Linked DNA regions of Homo sapiens: region 1 is linked to region 2. Evidence: fine-mapped expression QTL. Tissue or cell type: skin. Region 2 holds a variant in brackets; the other region holds the start of a gene. All regions are shown on one strand. Distances are between the middles of the regions.

Region 1 (8,111 bases), 440 kb after region 2:
GATGAGGAAGTGGAGGAGGTGGATGGAAGTGGTAAGGATGACAAGTTTTAATGAGGCTTTAAACCCTTTGTGGAAACCATCTAAAATCAAACATTCGCATGTTTTTAAATACCCATAACAGTATCTAGAGCAGTGGTTTTCAATTAGAAGCATTTGGAAGTATGCACAGGGAATGGGAGTTACAATTTTTTGATGTCGCATGACTGAGACTACTACTAGAATATAATGGGCAAGTATGCCAAAGGTTCTGCAACACGTGGGCCATTCCCACACACCAAAGAACTGTCCACCCAAAATGCCAATAGTGTCCTGTTGGGAAGCACTGATGAATGTCCAACACAGAGGAAGCATTCATTAAACATTTACTAAATAAATGAACATAACTTATACTACATATTTCCTTCAGAGCACAATCTCTTGGAAGGCTCATTCTTCTTCACCTTCCCAGCTCCCCAACACTGAACCTGACACACAAGCATTTAGTGAGTTGTCTCTCAAACATTCCATCAAGACATCAAGACAATCTATTAAACTGCAAGAAATTCTAACTTGACATGGGCAAGTTAAGGTAATGATGTTCAACACATTCTCTCCAGGTATAAAGGAAGGCTGGAAAGATAATACTAAAACCTAGATGTCCTATGGAAATAAACAAAGCTTTGCTCCATCACCAGGTGTTTAATTTAAATTTTGAAACATGATCATTCCAAAAACAAAAATAAGAAAAGGCAATAATTTATAAAGATTTATATGCTTTACAGAGGTAAACTAACCCAAAGACATACTTTTCTTCTGAGTATCAGCTTGAATGTCAAAATTAAGCCACTTGGCTATCTATTTCTTCTGGGGGAAAAAGCCACCAGAATGTATCATATTACATACTTCCATGTTTCAAAAGAACAAAAGTCATTTTCTCCAGGACTGACATAATGAGAGCCAAGCAAATGTTGAAAGTAGCAAAAGGTTGCAAAGGAACTGAATGAAGAATAGTATAAAACAATGGCAATAGAGAAAAGCATGCATCATACAGTAGTTTAAAGATTAGATCATTTTTCCTAATTCAGAAAAAGGGCAAACGAGTATACAATAAGCCCATAGCCGGGTGCCTGTATTCCCAGCTACTTGGGAGGCTGAGGCAGGAGAATTGCTTGAGCCCGGGAGGCAGAGGGTACACTGAGCTGAAATCGCACCACTGCGCTCCAGCCTGGGCGACAAAGTGAGACTCCATCTAAAAAATAATAATAACAACAATAAGCCCATAGCATTAAAGAAAATGTATGTAGCAATGGGAGAACTTTTCAGATTTCTAAAATCATCAGAATAGAAACGGTGAATTACTGCAAATATACTTTTAACTCATACATTTTTAAAACACTGGAAATTCAATTGCAAGAATCCAAAAAATTGACTGTTTGAAAGACTAAGAAAAAATAACCAAATTTAATTTCATAATAGAAGCTTTTCATGTCTCAGGGCTGCCAAATACTGCTAGATTCTTAAGAATAAATTATCTATACCAATATAACCAGAAACTGCATTAGAGGGGATCTGTATGACGTGGCGTATAAAAGAAAAAATTCCCAGATGAAAGAGCGCATATAAGCAAATGAACAAATAAAGAACTCTCATTCAAAGTAATGAATACATTTTGATATCGGAAAGCTTCTCAATCTGTGTCTTTAAAGAAGTTAACTACAACAAAAGCTTCTCAATCTGTTTCTTTAAAGAAGTTAACTACAACATCTTTGAACTACTAACAATTTCCATTTATGTATGACCAGCTCATCTGAACTAAGTGTCAAGATGAAGCTAATTTTAATGCATTTTGTTTTTCTCTGTTATATACATAAAAAAAAAAATCTGGTAACGTATAGGCTATTTAAATGAATTCTTAGAAATTCATAGCAGGCCTCTAGTGGTATGGAGGATATAATGAATTTTATATTTTTTTAAGTACTGGAGTTTTTTTCACAGCAAGGAGGAGGAGTATCACCTGATAATACAGAAAAAAATAGATCACAAATAGATAAGAACCAAAATATTTCTTCAGGATGAGCACTTGGGTTTTAGTGCGTATAAAGAAGTTGGATGGAATGGTTTGGATCAATTTTCATTGACAGCCTTGCTTCCTAGCCACCTATTCTGAAGTGCACTCGATAAAAAGAGAATGTCTACTAAAATGACCTTGTGTCTACACAGCTTACTTCCAGATTACAAGACTCATCTGGCATCACAGGCCAAGCATATTCCATACAACTGGACACATGACAAACTCAGAGCAATTGATTACTATGTTTAGGTTTATACATTCATAAAAAAGTAAAATTTGAACCATCAACATGGCCAAGCACAGATGTTGTTGGCTCTCCCTCAAAAACTTATTGAGGCTTTAGTGTTCTTAATTCTATTACCAAAAAAAAAGCAATTCCAAAAGGAACCATAGAGGAGTTGAAGTCATTAAAAATGAGGAGGCCTTTCTGTTTTAACTTTTCTTACATACATATGCAAACTCAGTTTTACCCTGAAAGATGACATCTAGGAAAAAGTCCATTTTGTAAGCACCTACTGAAAAGAGAACTTTCTGTAGTATTGGCTGACAAAATGCAGTTTATCCCAAACTCTTAAAATTATTACAAACATGGAAGTCTTAACACAGCTCCACTTATTTTAAAAGTTTCTCAAATAGAATATGACCCCCTCACCTTCTTCCAAAAATAGTTAAGTGGAATATTTTAATAATTCATGTCTACAGTTCCCTTTAATAATTTCATTGATTTATTATGATACCAAGGGTATTTCATTTGGAGGTCTAAAATATCCCCTTCTTTGTGACTAAGAGGTAAATGCACATTTGAAGGGGTGATATGCCTTATGTTCTTCGAGCAATGTAATCTGCTGTGTGACATAAATTTTGGCTCTGATCTCACACTGAGGTTTTCACTCCATAGGCACCTGCTTGCAATTTAAATTGAAAGAATCAAAACTTGGTCTTGGATAAAGGAAAGATCCAATTTTCTGTCTGTGTCCTCAACGTAAAACAAAGATTCAATAGTAGTATACAGATTGCCAGAAACCACAGGCTAAAGAGATGTGGCAATTTCCTGAAAGATTTTATGTTTGGGGGGTGGGGGCGGGAGGGGGGCAGGTAGGGTGGAAAGGAGTTGTGGGAGGGGAGAGAGAGACAGAGAGAGAGAGAGAGAGAGAGGAGGGAGAGAGAGAGAGAGAGAGGAGAGAGAGGAGAGAGAGAGAGAGGGAGGGAGGGAGGGAGAGAGAGAGAGAGAGAAGAGAGAGAGGAGAGAGAGAGAGAGGGGGAGGGAGGGAGGGAGGGAGGGAGGGAGGGGGAGAGAGAGAGAGAGAGAGAGAGAGAGAGAGAGAGAGAGAGAGAGAGTCTGCAAGCCCACCATGATGGTCTCTCAAGCCCGCTCAGACATCTGCCCACCATCCACTGCAAGCCTCTTTCAAATGGTCACTTCCTATTATAAGGTTAAACTATAATCAACAAATCCCTTTCTTTCTCCTAACTCAAAACTGTAGTTTCCCATCTCCTTAAAGAAAAGGCACTATCCACCATTTGCTTTCTATTGTTAAAAGGGGCAATGCGTATCTTCTTTTCTTTATGGCACAATTATTAATATTACTCAGAAAGTCCTACCTTTACAAGTTATAATAAGTATCAACATTTATTTGAAATCATACTGTAAAATTTAAAAGGCATCCATATTTATGTTTTATTCTCACAATGACATCTCCAGGTCTTCAAACGGAAGACTACGACACAAATGGCCTGCCTTCACCGTGCTGCAATTTCTTCAACAGGTAACTTGCTTAGCCTGTGCTACGTATTCATACTGCACGTGGATGTCACTGAATGTCCTTTCTCTTCCAATACATATCTGTATCTAAAAGCACACGGTTTGCTTGCAGATTTTCTTCCTTCCCTTCTCCTCCCTATGGGAAGCTGCCCACTCCACCCCGAAAACACTGTCCCCCAAAGCAAGGGGACGCGCTGCACCCTCGGCTGTCACCGCGAGGGCTCGGCGCGCATGCGCGGCGCGAGCGGCCGGGCCCCACAGCCGCAGGTCGTTGGTAAGGCGGGTCCGCGGACCCCAGGTCGAGCCCAGCGGCAGTGCAGGATCGCAAGCGGCCCGGCACCGGCGCCGCAGGTTGTTGGCAAGCCTGGTCCGGGGTTTTAGGTTGAGCCCAAGCGGCAATGCGGGATCGCCACCGGGCCGCGCGGGCTTGGGAGGGTGACGCCCGCGAGGACACTGCGGCGTCCGGGGCGGGCGGGCACACTCACAATTTCAGCATCCACTCGCCCTCCATCACCAGCGTCCAGTTGGAGGCGGTCATGGGCTGGACCCGGCTCTGCTCCGGCGGCAGCGCGGCCTCCTCGGGGCCTGCCGTCGCCGCCACAGCCGCGATCCAGGCGGCCAGGAGCGCCGTTAGCTGCGGGCCGCAGCGCCCACCCGCCATGTTGGGCGCCGAGCGAGGCTTCTCGGCGGGGAGTGTGGGGAAGGGCAGCGGCCGGCCCGCAGCCTCGCTCGCCCGCCGGGTTTTTCAAGGAAGCGGGAGACGCAAGGGCCACCCCGCCTACGCCTAGCGGCGCAGACTGGCGGTGCTCGCAATGCCGCGGAGGACGCCACCTCTTATCGCCGCTTGCCCGTCGAGGCCACGCCCCCTCCCGCCTCCACTTGCCGTTGCCCGGGGTGTCGGTTACCTCAGCAACCACCGCCCTTTCTTCCTGACCGCCAAGCTGACAATAAACAGATGACCCAACGTTGCCTAAGTTAGAACATGCACCGCTGCTGCCCAGGCTCCAATAAGGGCAGGGTTGGCGCGTGTGGGCTTCTCTAAAGGGAAACATGGCCAGTAATTTTAAAATCCATCCCCTCTTCAATGATAGCAAATATAAAAGCAACGGGCTGCAAGGTACACGTATGTTTAATGAAAAATGGAGGGACGTGGTGAGTATCTCCTGCTGAAGAGAGAGGAAAATTTAAGTACTCTGCATGTGTATATTGAAGCATCACTAATTTAGGATATTGATGAAACTAGCCTATGCAATTGCATTTTTTTTACAAAAAATGTTAATTTCATAGAAACTCTTAAAAACATGGGTACTAGCCGATAAAATGAGTCAATTAAGACTATTGCCACCTGCAGTAAAATGGACCTCACATTTCTCTTGACTACAGTTTTGTCAGATCTAAAATGAGGGTAGCCTTAAGTGATTTCCAAATTTCTTTCCAGGTCACATTAGATGAATCTGTACCTTGGGACCACCACACCGTTAATATATAAGACTGGATTACAATTAAAGGATGAGGAAGCTTTCTCAAAGGGTGCTTTGTATGTGTTTACTAGTTGTGCAAACCATGAACCTCGGTAATGTGGTTAATAGACCATGAAAAGGATGTGGTTTCTGCCCTCGGCTTAAAACAAAGACAGCAATAAGACTAAAAGTACTTCAGGGCACATGAGAGCAAATTTCAATCAATACTTATAGGAGAGGGAAGTTAATTTTGCCTGAAGAGAAGATCTGGCCTGCATTATGCATTAATTAGTATTAGCTAAAAACTATGTGGACCTAGCCCTTATCATTAAAATAAAACACTCAAGGGTTTACAAACTATTGAAATTTAAGAAAATGTCTTTGCAATGAATGCTACTAAGACTCACTGTTATTAAGTACATACATATCAATTCCATAAACTCAATGGAAAACATTTTACTGTGCTTGTAAAAAGAAGTGACTCATAAACAGGAATTCTGTCATTTTATCACTTTCATGATAGAATGATGTGTAGAATTTGTTTTACAATGCTCCAGAAATAAAATGTAGGGAATGGAAAGAAGATAGGTGAAAGAAAAGTGGTGCAACATCAGTCAGTGTTGAAGCTAAGTTCATTTTGCTACTTTACCTACTCATGCATATGTTGGAAAATTTACAAAATGAAAAGCTAAAAGGAGAGAGAGCATCTTCAGCATGAAAGACAGCCATTACCAAAGCATTTCCTATCTTTAACAAAAACTGAAGTCTTAGCCTTCAGACTAAGGATGGTAGGAAGAAAGTAGCAAGGAAGTATGGGACTGACCTTGCCGTAAGGAGTCACAGACCAGGGTAAGGGACCTGTTGCTGTCAGACCATGATTGGCATCTTAGCCCTGACACTTCCTAGCCATGTGATTTGGGGCTAAAACTAGTCCACACCAAAGTTCTCTTAAAATGCGGGTAGTAATAGAACCTGCTCCAAAAGGTGGCTGTGAAGATTATATGAGATAAGAATAATGCCTAGCACATATTCTAACTCAAAAAGCTTACATATTAGGTTGGTGCAAACATAATTGTGGTTTTTGCCACAATATTGCCAACACTAATATTATTATTTGGAGGCAACAATACGCTGTAATGTCTATTTTTCTTATACTAAAGTTAACTTCACTTAGCATGATACACAATGCCTCTCACAGCCCAGCTTCAGTTTTGCCCACTTTACATTCCACTATTCCCAGAGTTCCCTGTGTCCTAGTAACACAAAGCTACTCCCCATTCCCAAAGCACATTGTGTACTTCAGTGTCTCCTTGCTCCTTCATTCTGATTAGAACACTCTTCTCCAGTTGTCCAGTGAATCATTCAGTCTCTGTCATGTAGTCCACACTGTACCTCTGATAGCTCATGCAGAATGAGCTGCTGTCTCTTCTCAGATCCAATTGCTCTTCTGTATAACTGATATGGTTTGGCTCTGTGTCCCCATCCAAATCACATTTTGTAGCTCCCCTAATTCCCACGTGTTGTGGGAGGGACCCCATGGGAGATAATTGAATCATGGGGGCGGGTCTTTCCCATGTTGTTCTCGTGATAGTGAATAAGTCTCATGAGATCTGATGGTTTTAAAAATGGTAATTTCCCTGCACAAGCTGTCTCTCTTTTGGCCTGCTGCCATCCGCGTAAGACATGACTTACTCCTCCGTGCCTTCCACCATGATTGTGAGGCTTCCCCAGCCATGAGGAACTGTGAGTTGAATAAACACTTTTTCCTGTATAAATTACCCCGTCTCGGGTATGTCTTTATCAGCAGCGTGAAAATGGACTAATACAATAACTTCACCACATACCTTTCATAGTATAATGCATTTATATGTAGCTATCACCCTCTACCCTCACTCCTCCAACCACTACTAAAAACTCTTCAAGGTCAAGGGCTTTACCTTATATATCTTTGTGTCCCCTGTATTGCAGAATACCCATCCCATAGATGTACTTGGGATAGACAGCTTCTGGCACTCCTCCCAAGATCTCTCCCTCCTGGTATTCAGGCCCTTGTGTGATCCTTTCCTCTTGAGTGTGGGTTGGGCCTGGTGACCCACTTCTAACAGAAGATGGGAAAACTGATGGATTATCACTTCTTTGTTAAGGTTACAAAAACCTGAGACTTCCATTTTGCTGGAAACTTCTTTTCCTCTTGCACACTCACTCTGCGACTCTGTGTGGAGAGCTCCATGTGACAAGGGAGGTCTGCAGCCTAAGCAACTGAGACCTCAGCCCAACAGCCCTCAAAGAACTGGATCTTCAAACAACCACATGAGTGACCTAGAAGCAAATCTGTCACCAGTGCTCTTGAGACGGGTGAGCCTTATAAATGACCCAGAACCAGGGGGCAAAGCTTAGCTTAGCTGGGACCTCCACCCACGGAAACTGTGAGGTAATCAATGTTGTTACATAATATCAAGCCACTAAGATTTGGGGCAATTTGTTATGCTGTAATGCTATGCTAGGTCAGTGTGTGATCCATGTTTATGTTTAAAACGTGGATTTACAGGTTTAAGAAGATTGGTACCTGGTACTAGGAGAAAAGGCTTTTTCCCCCAGAGTGATGGTGGCACTGCAGGGCAGCTATGATTACACAAAAATATGTGGTTCCTAGTAGGCAAAGGAATTCCTAGGCCTCTGATGAGGTAACATCATTAGCAGGAGAGAGGGGAAGAAGAGTGTGGTAGATCCTATCTAGTCCCCCTCTCTTTCCCTGCCCCACAGAGGAGGATGCTCCTACACCCCTCAGAAGTTAGTCATATTTATATGAATTGGCCAATGGGCTACAAATGGAAGGGGT
Region 2 (8,111 bases):
CACCCCTATAAAATCACCAAGACTTCGATTTTTATCTTTTTCTCATCAAAACAGCAGAGAGGTTAACTTCTCCAATTGACAGATGTGTAAAAGGCTGGTGCAAGAAAATGCCTGACGTGCTTTATGAAGCTCCATAGCAGAAGAATGTTTTCATCCCTACCATGTGAAAAATTGAAGCTTAAATGACTTCCATATGGGGAATTTTGTGTTACTCCATGCGAGTCCCTGGCTTTTGTCTTCTACATGCCATTGCTCCTTAAATTCGATTTATTCATTTGGTTAAACTCTTTTTGTGAATTCCAGGTAATAGATTCCTCTGGATTCCAATACAATGAAACTTTTTATCAAATAGCTTTAAATTAGAAAGAAAAAAATTTTTATCAGAGTAGATCAACCAGGGATTTGGATTTGATCTGAGATGTTCTGTGACTGCACTTGTTTAACTATCTTACATGAAAAAAGATATATGACGTATACACCATGATTTGATTCATGGTATAGCGTGGATCATGCCATGATCCATGATGTAGCAATGTGTATCTTTGGGCCACAGTTAATTTTGTTTCGGGCTTAATACATAGATTAAGTTTGTAATGCATCCACTGTCTCTAAAGGAAAAATCAAATTGTAAATCATATCCTGATATGTCTCTAAATTATACCTAAAAATAATAGGAATTGGTGAGTTAAGTGAAGGAGGTATAAAACCATCATTCAAATATTAATTGAGTACTAATTAGTATAAGAAACTTGCACATATACTTTCTTCAGCTGCAAAGTAGGTATCAACACCCTCTTTTTTCAGAGAAGGTCGCTAACCAATATACTTAAATTAATTTGTCCACAGCTATAGAGCAATAAATGACGGAAGAAGGTTAAAATCATGACCTCATTTCAAAGTCCATTTTCTGGTCTTATGCCATATCTAGAGATACCTAGATCCTAAAATAATAATGCATGGCACTTTCTAAACATGCCCACAAAATCTTTGATACCCCTTCTGTTAAGAGGCGGGATCTCTGTTTCCTTCCCTTGAATCTGGTCGTAACTCAGTGATGCATTTACAATCAATAAACCACAGTTGACATAGTATTATATGGCTTCTGTGACTAGGCCAAAAACACCCTGTGGCTTCCACCAGATTAAACAGTCTGCTCCCTCTGAAAGAGGTCAGCCACCATGAAGAAAGTCTGACTGCTCTGAGATTACTGTGATGGAAAGTCTCTGGTACTCTGGCTGACAGTCTGGCCAAGCCCCGAAGCCAATACCAAGAATCAACTATCAGTCAAGTTACTGAGCCATCTTGGAGGTTCAATTCAGTTGAGCTTCAGGCAACTGATACCCTAGGGGACAGCTCACTGCAACCACATGAGAGACCCCATGAAAGAGTAACCTAGCCAAGCCTTTCCTGAATTTCTTAACCGTAAATGAGTGAGCAAAATGAAATGATTGCTGTTTTATACTACTAAATTTGGGGATAATTTTCATACAGCAAATCAATCAAAATACAAGACAAGATTCACTAAGCATTTAGGCAATGAGGCATCAGCAAGAGATATGGGGGACCTCTGAGTCTCTATCCACCTTCACTATTCAATAAGCAGAACTCAACTATGGCACAGGAGATAATATGAGCACAGCCATTAAATCAGACAAACATGGATGTATCCCAACATTGACACTTACTAGCTCCAATGTGGCCTAATCAAGGTAATATCCAGGGTTCTCTATAGAAACATAATGTATATATATATAATATTTATACATATATATCTTATAAATCTCTTTATATATTTATATAATATGTATAATATCTATTTAGGTAATGTATAATATATAAATATATAAATATATTTATTATAAGGAATTGGCTCACATGATTATGGAGGCTGGGACGTATTAAGATCTTCAGTAAGCAGGCTGGAGACCTAGAAGAGCCAGTAGTGGAGTTCCAGTTCCAGCCTGAATTTGAAGGCCTGAGAATCAGGAGAGCCAATGATGTAAGTTCCAACCTGAAAGCTGACATTCTCAAGAGCCAAGAAGAGCCAATGTTTTAGTTTGAGTCTAAAGAAAGGAAGAGACCTATGTTCTAGCTCAATCACCAAGCAGAAAGAGTTCTCTCTTAAGACCAAGTCAACTTTTTGTTCTATTCAAGTTTTTGACTGATTAAATAAGAGAAACTCACATTGAGAAAGCCAATCTATATTACTCAGTCTTACAAATCAAATGTTATTCACATGCAAAAGCGTCTACATACACACGCTGAGAATAATGATTGACCAAAATTTCCACACCTGGTGGCCCAAACAGGTTGACACATAAAATTAACCATCACTAAAATATTGGCCTATAATTTTGTTTTCTTGTAATATCTTTGGTGACTTTGGTGTTGGGGTAATTAATACTGATTATAAAATTTATTGGGTAATTTCCTCCTGTTCAATTATTGTATGAGTTTGTGAATGATTGGCATTAATTTTTCCTTAGATATCTGGTAGAATATACATCCTGGGCTTTTGTTTGTGGAGAGCTTTTTGATTACTGAATCAATCTCTTTACTTATTATTGGTTTACCTATATTTTCTAATTCTTCATGATACAGTCTTGGTAGATTTTATGTTTACAAGTCAATATTCCTTATGAACTTAAATGGAAAAATCCTCAACAAAATATTAGCAAAGCAAATTCACCGGCACATTAAAAAAAGATTATACATCATGATTAAGTGGGTTTTATCTCTAAAATGCAAGGATGTTCGAATATAAGCAAATCAACAGATGCGATACATCATATTATAAGAATGGATGATAAAAAATAAATATCAATAGATGCAGAAAAATCATTAGACAAAACTCAACATCCTTTCGTGATAAAACTCTCAACCTATTAAATACAGGAATAATGTAGTTTATCAGAATAAAGGCCATATATGACAAGCCCACTTATAACATCATAGTCAACCGTAGAAAGCTGACAACTTTTCCTCTAAAATAAGGAACAAGACAATGGTGCTTACTCACATCACTTCTACTCAACATAGTACTCAAAATCCTAGCCAGAGCAATTATTCATCAATAAAAAGAAATAAAAGGCATCCAAATCAGAGAGGAACAAATAAAACTGTCTTTGTTTACAAATGACATGATCTTACATATATAAAACCCTGACTACTCCACCGAAAAACTGTTAAAAGTAATAAACAAATTTAGTAGTGTCGCAAGTGTTGCAGGATACAAAATCAACATACAAAAATCACTAAAGTTTTATACAATAAACAAGCTATCTTAAAAAATTAAGAGAATTATTTTATTTACAATAACATTTTAAAAATACTTAGGAGTATATTTAACTAAGGAAGTGAAAGTGATTTACAATGAAAACCGTGACACTGGTGTAAGAAATTGAAAAAGACACAATTAAATAAAGAGATGTCATGTTCCTGGTTTGGAAAAATTAATATTATTAAAATGTGCATCCTACACAACACAATCTACAGATTCAGTGCAATCCCTAATGAAATTCCAAAGTGATTTTTCACATAAGTAGAAAATAATTTCTTAACATTCATATGGGACCACAAAAGACCCAGACTAGCCAAAGCAATTTTGAGAATGAAGAATAAAACTGGAGGCATCACACTACCTGATTTCAAAACACACTACAAAGCTACAGTAATCAAAACGAAATGATACTAGCATAAAAACAGACATAGGGACCAATGGAAAAGAACAGAAAGCCTGGAAGTACGTTCATGGATTATAAAGTCAAATGAATTTGGCAAAGGTAACAGATGTACACAATAGAAAAATGATAGTTTCTTCAATATACGGTGTTGGAAAAACTATATTTACA[T/A]GCAGAACAATGACATTAGACCCTGTACAAAACCAACTCAAAATGAATTAAGTACGTAACCATAAGGCTTGTAACTGTAAAACTACTAGAAAAACAACAGGGAAAAAGACTTCTTGACATTCGTATAGGTAATGAGTTTTAGCTATGACCCCCAAAGCACACGCATCAAAACCAAAAATAGACAACTGGAACTACATCAATCTATAAAGATGTTGCATATCAAAAAAAAACAATAAACAGAGTCAAGAGAAAACCTATAGCATGGAAGAAAATATTAAATGGGACTGAATATACCTTTCTCAAAAGAAAACATCCAAATGGCCAAGAGGTATATGAAAAAATACTCAACAACACAAATCATCAAAAAAATGCAAAAAAAACACAATGAGAAATTATGCAGCACTATTCACAAAAGCAAAAGTGTGGACTCAACATAAGTGTCCATCAACAGATAAATTGATAAAGAAAATGTTGTATATAGATACGATGGTATGCTATTCACGTGACGAAAAAAGAATAAAACCATGTCATTTGTAGCAATGTGGATGAAACTGGAGGTCATTATATTAAGTGAAATAGGCCAGGCACAGAAAGGCAGAAGCCACATGTTCTCACTCATATGTGGTGGGAGCTAAAAAAGTTTATCTCATGGAGATAGATAATGGATTGTTAGGTACCAGAGGCTGAGAAGAGTATGTGGGTGGAGGGGAGAATGAAGAGTTGGTTAGTGGATACAAAAATACAAGTTAGAAGAAATGAGCCCCAATATTCAATACCAGAGTATGGTAACTACAGATAGCAACAGTGTATTGTGTATTTCAAAGTAGCTAGAACAGAGGACTTGAAATACCACCAACATAAAGAAATAATAAATACTCCAAGTGATGGAAAACACAAACACCCTGACTTGATCATTGCACATTATATGCATGTAACAAATATTCACATGTACTCGTTAAATATGTAAAATATTTTGTATCAATAAGAAAATAACGGCTATAGTAAAAAAAAGAAGACAAAAGATAACACGTGTTGACAAGAATGTTGAGAAAAGAAAATGCTTGTGCATTGTCAGTGGGAATTTCAATTGTTTAGCCATTATGTAAAATTGTGTGGAGGTTGCTCAAAAAATTAAAAATAGAACTACCATATGATCCAGCAATCCCACTTTTGGGTATATATCTAAAGAAAATAAAATCAGTATCTCAAAGAGATATCTGCACTTCCATGTTCATTGCAATATCACTCACAAGAGCCAAAATATAGAACCAACCTAAGTGTCCACTAACAGATAAATGGATAAAGAAAATGCAGATAAAGAAAACATTGTATACATACATATAATATGCATATAATATGTAAGTATAAAATGGAATATTATTCAACCTTTAAAAAGTAGGAAATTCTGTCATTTGTGACAACATGGATGAACCTAGAGGACATTATGTTAAGTGAAATAAGCCCATACAGAAAGACAAATACTGAATAATCTCACATATATGTGGAATCAAAAAGAGTCAAACTCATAGAAGCAGAGAGTAGATTGGTGGTTGCCAGAGGTTGGAGAATGGAAGAAATGAGGAGGTGTCTGAAAAAGTAAAAAATTTCAGTTATGCAAGATGAATAAATTCTGGAGACCTAATGTATGGCATCGTGACTATGATTTTTAGTACAGTAGGTGTTAAATGTTCTTACCACAAAAAAAAAAACATGTGATATACTTTGCATATTTGTTCCCTCCAAATCTCATGTTGAAATTTGATCTGCAAGGTCAGAGATGGGGCTTGGTGGGTGGGATTGTTTGGGTTATGGAGGTGGATCCAACATGCATGGCTTTGTGCCATCCTGAAGGTAACCTGCAGATCTAATTATTGAAAAGAGCCTGGCACCTCCCTCCTCTCCCTATTGCTAATCTCTCTTGCCATGTGACATGCTGACTCCCTTTACCTTCTGCCATGAGTAAAAGCTTCCTGAGGCCCTCACCACAAGCCAAGCAGATGCCTATTCCACACTTTTTATACAGCCTGCAAAACTATGAGCCAAATAAACTTATTTTCTTTATAAATTACCCAGTCTCAGGTATTCCTGTATAGCAGAGCAAGAGGAACTAATATACTATATGAGGTGATAAATATGTTAATTAGATTAGTTGTGGTAATCATTTTACAATGCATACAAATATCAAAATGTCACATTGTACACCTTTAATATAGACAGTTTCTATTTGTTGATTATACCTCAATAAAGCTGGAAAAAACATAAGTCCATTCCTTCTCAAATGGGTACCTATATTCATCTCCTTAAACCTACCTAATATCCAAATAAAGACAATAACAAGGTTATAATTCCACCTGATACAATTCTCCATACAACTAAAAACACACCAGCCTCTTTTTCAGAAGAGGAGATAAAGTGCTTGAGTATTTACTTTTCTCTTCGATATCCCATAACTTATATTTGCATTACGATAATGCAAAATATTTTTTAAATACTATGTATTTAATATTCAAATGCTATTTAAATACTATGATATAAAAGTGAATACATCTTACGTTACATGGTAAGAGAATAAGAGAGAAAAGATATATATATATTTATAGACATACATGCATATAAATACATGCAACATATTGACAACAAGGTAAGAGGGATATGTTCAACAACTACAGCCCTCCTTTCTGTAACTGGTCACACAGTCACAGCTGTTATTTATAACAGCCTTCCTCTACTAGCCACTCTGTATTTCCTTTGCCTTCAGAAAATCCTTTATCTAGTTCTTTATCTGGTGGAGTTACCCAAACTCCAGATGAAGGGTGTCCTCAAGGGCCTGAGACATTAATAATCCTGCCTTGATTTCAATGCTATAGTTTCCCATTGACCTTAATCATAGGGCATGGTAATACTAAGAGGCATCCAGAAGAATCTACTGTATTCCAGAAATATTCTTCCATGCCTCCATTGTGTAGTCAGTTTCTCCTTGGTAGTCAGGATCAATCGTCTCAGCCAGCAGAGTAACTCCCTTCTTTGCCTGTTGATTTAGAGGCAGCAGGAAACCAAAGTCCCTGGACAGGAGTCTTAACTTCCACTTCAATAGAGTCACTGTTTTGTCTCCTGGTGGAAATGTCTCCTCCCTTTGGAACTAAAATATTTAGGCTAGCAGATCATAAAGTCATGAAAACAGAAAGCAAAAATTTTGCAAGTGGGTCATTAAGGGTCATAGTGAGTGATGCCATTCCCACTTGCAACCCTGGACTCATGAACACTGGCTATGGGAGAAACCACACCATATATTGGATGCTGATTGAGACCAGATATATAGCCTTCTGGAGAACTTGCCCCAGCCCAGCAAGGCATTGTCATGTACCTAGTACTGTAACTGAGTCTTCAAAAGATCATTCTACAGATTTACCAATCCAGCTGCTTCATGATGGTGGGGAACATGGTAAAACCAGTGAATTCCATGAGTATGGGCCCATTGCCACACTTCATTTGCAGTGAAGTGGGTGTATTGATTAGAAGCAATGCTGTGTGGAATAAGACAATGTATCAGTGAAAAAGACAGTCTGAAAATTCATAGACGGTAGTTTTGGCAGAAGTATTGCATGTAGGGAAGAGAAATTTGTATCCAGAGTAAATGTCTATCCAAATAAACGCAAAACACTGCCCCTTCCATGATGGGAGCATTCTAATGTAATCAACTTGCCACCAGGTAGCAGGCTAATTCCCTGGGGAATAGTGCCATATTGAAGACTCAATGTTGTTCTTTGCTACTGGCAAATTGAATACCCAGTGGTGGCTGTAGCCAGGTCAGCCTTGGTAAGTGGAAGTTGATTTTGCTGACCTCATGCATCACCTCCATTTCTCACACCATAACCACATTTTTATGAGCTCACTGGGTCATGAAAGGGTCTGGAGAAAGAAATTGTCTGGTATCCATACAATGGATCATTCTGTCAATTAAATTATTAAAATCATCATCTGATGATGTCTTCTTTTGAAGCATTCATATGGGGTACAAATGCCTCCATGATTTTTCCCATTTAGATGTGTTTATACAGAAAGTTCTTCCCCCAATTTTTTGTTATTAATTTATCAATCATGTTTTTTTCAATTTCCTGATCATCCAGCCAACCATAGGTCACAGACCATGACTCGGTATGTAATCTCATATCAGACCATTTCTCCTTCCAGAAAAGTGAACAATCAGATGCAATTCTGTGGTTCTAACCCCTTGGAGAAGTTCTCTTCACCTGTGTCATT

What was found. PIP is the estimated chance that this variant, and not a neighbour inherited with it, causes the effect.
Region 1: TMX4 starts here. The variant in region 2 is fine-mapped to the expression of TMX4 in skin (TwinsUK, PIP 0.95).

Annotation. Positions count from the first base shown.
Region 1 is chr20:8,015,141-8,023,251 of GRCh38, forward strand. It overlaps TMX4 (thioredoxin related transmembrane protein 4), which reads right to left and starts at 4,621. Exons shown (of 8, transcript NM_021156.4): 1 at 4,298-4,621. The coding sequence starts at 4,473. TMX4-AS1 (TMX4 antisense RNA 1) reads left to right here and starts at 4,766. Exons shown (of 7, transcript NR_184034.1): 1 at 4,766-4,964; 2 at 5,251-6,121; 3 at 6,919-7,015; 4 at 7,241-7,309; 5 at 7,417-7,627. RefSeq lists silencers at 4,132-4,271, 4,382-4,621.
Region 2 is chr20:7,571,786-7,579,896 of GRCh38, forward strand. No RefSeq gene overlaps it. Among named protein-coding and RNA genes, the nearest start is that of MIR8062, 200 kb to the left of the region's middle. The variant T/A (reference allele first, on the strand shown) is at 3,852.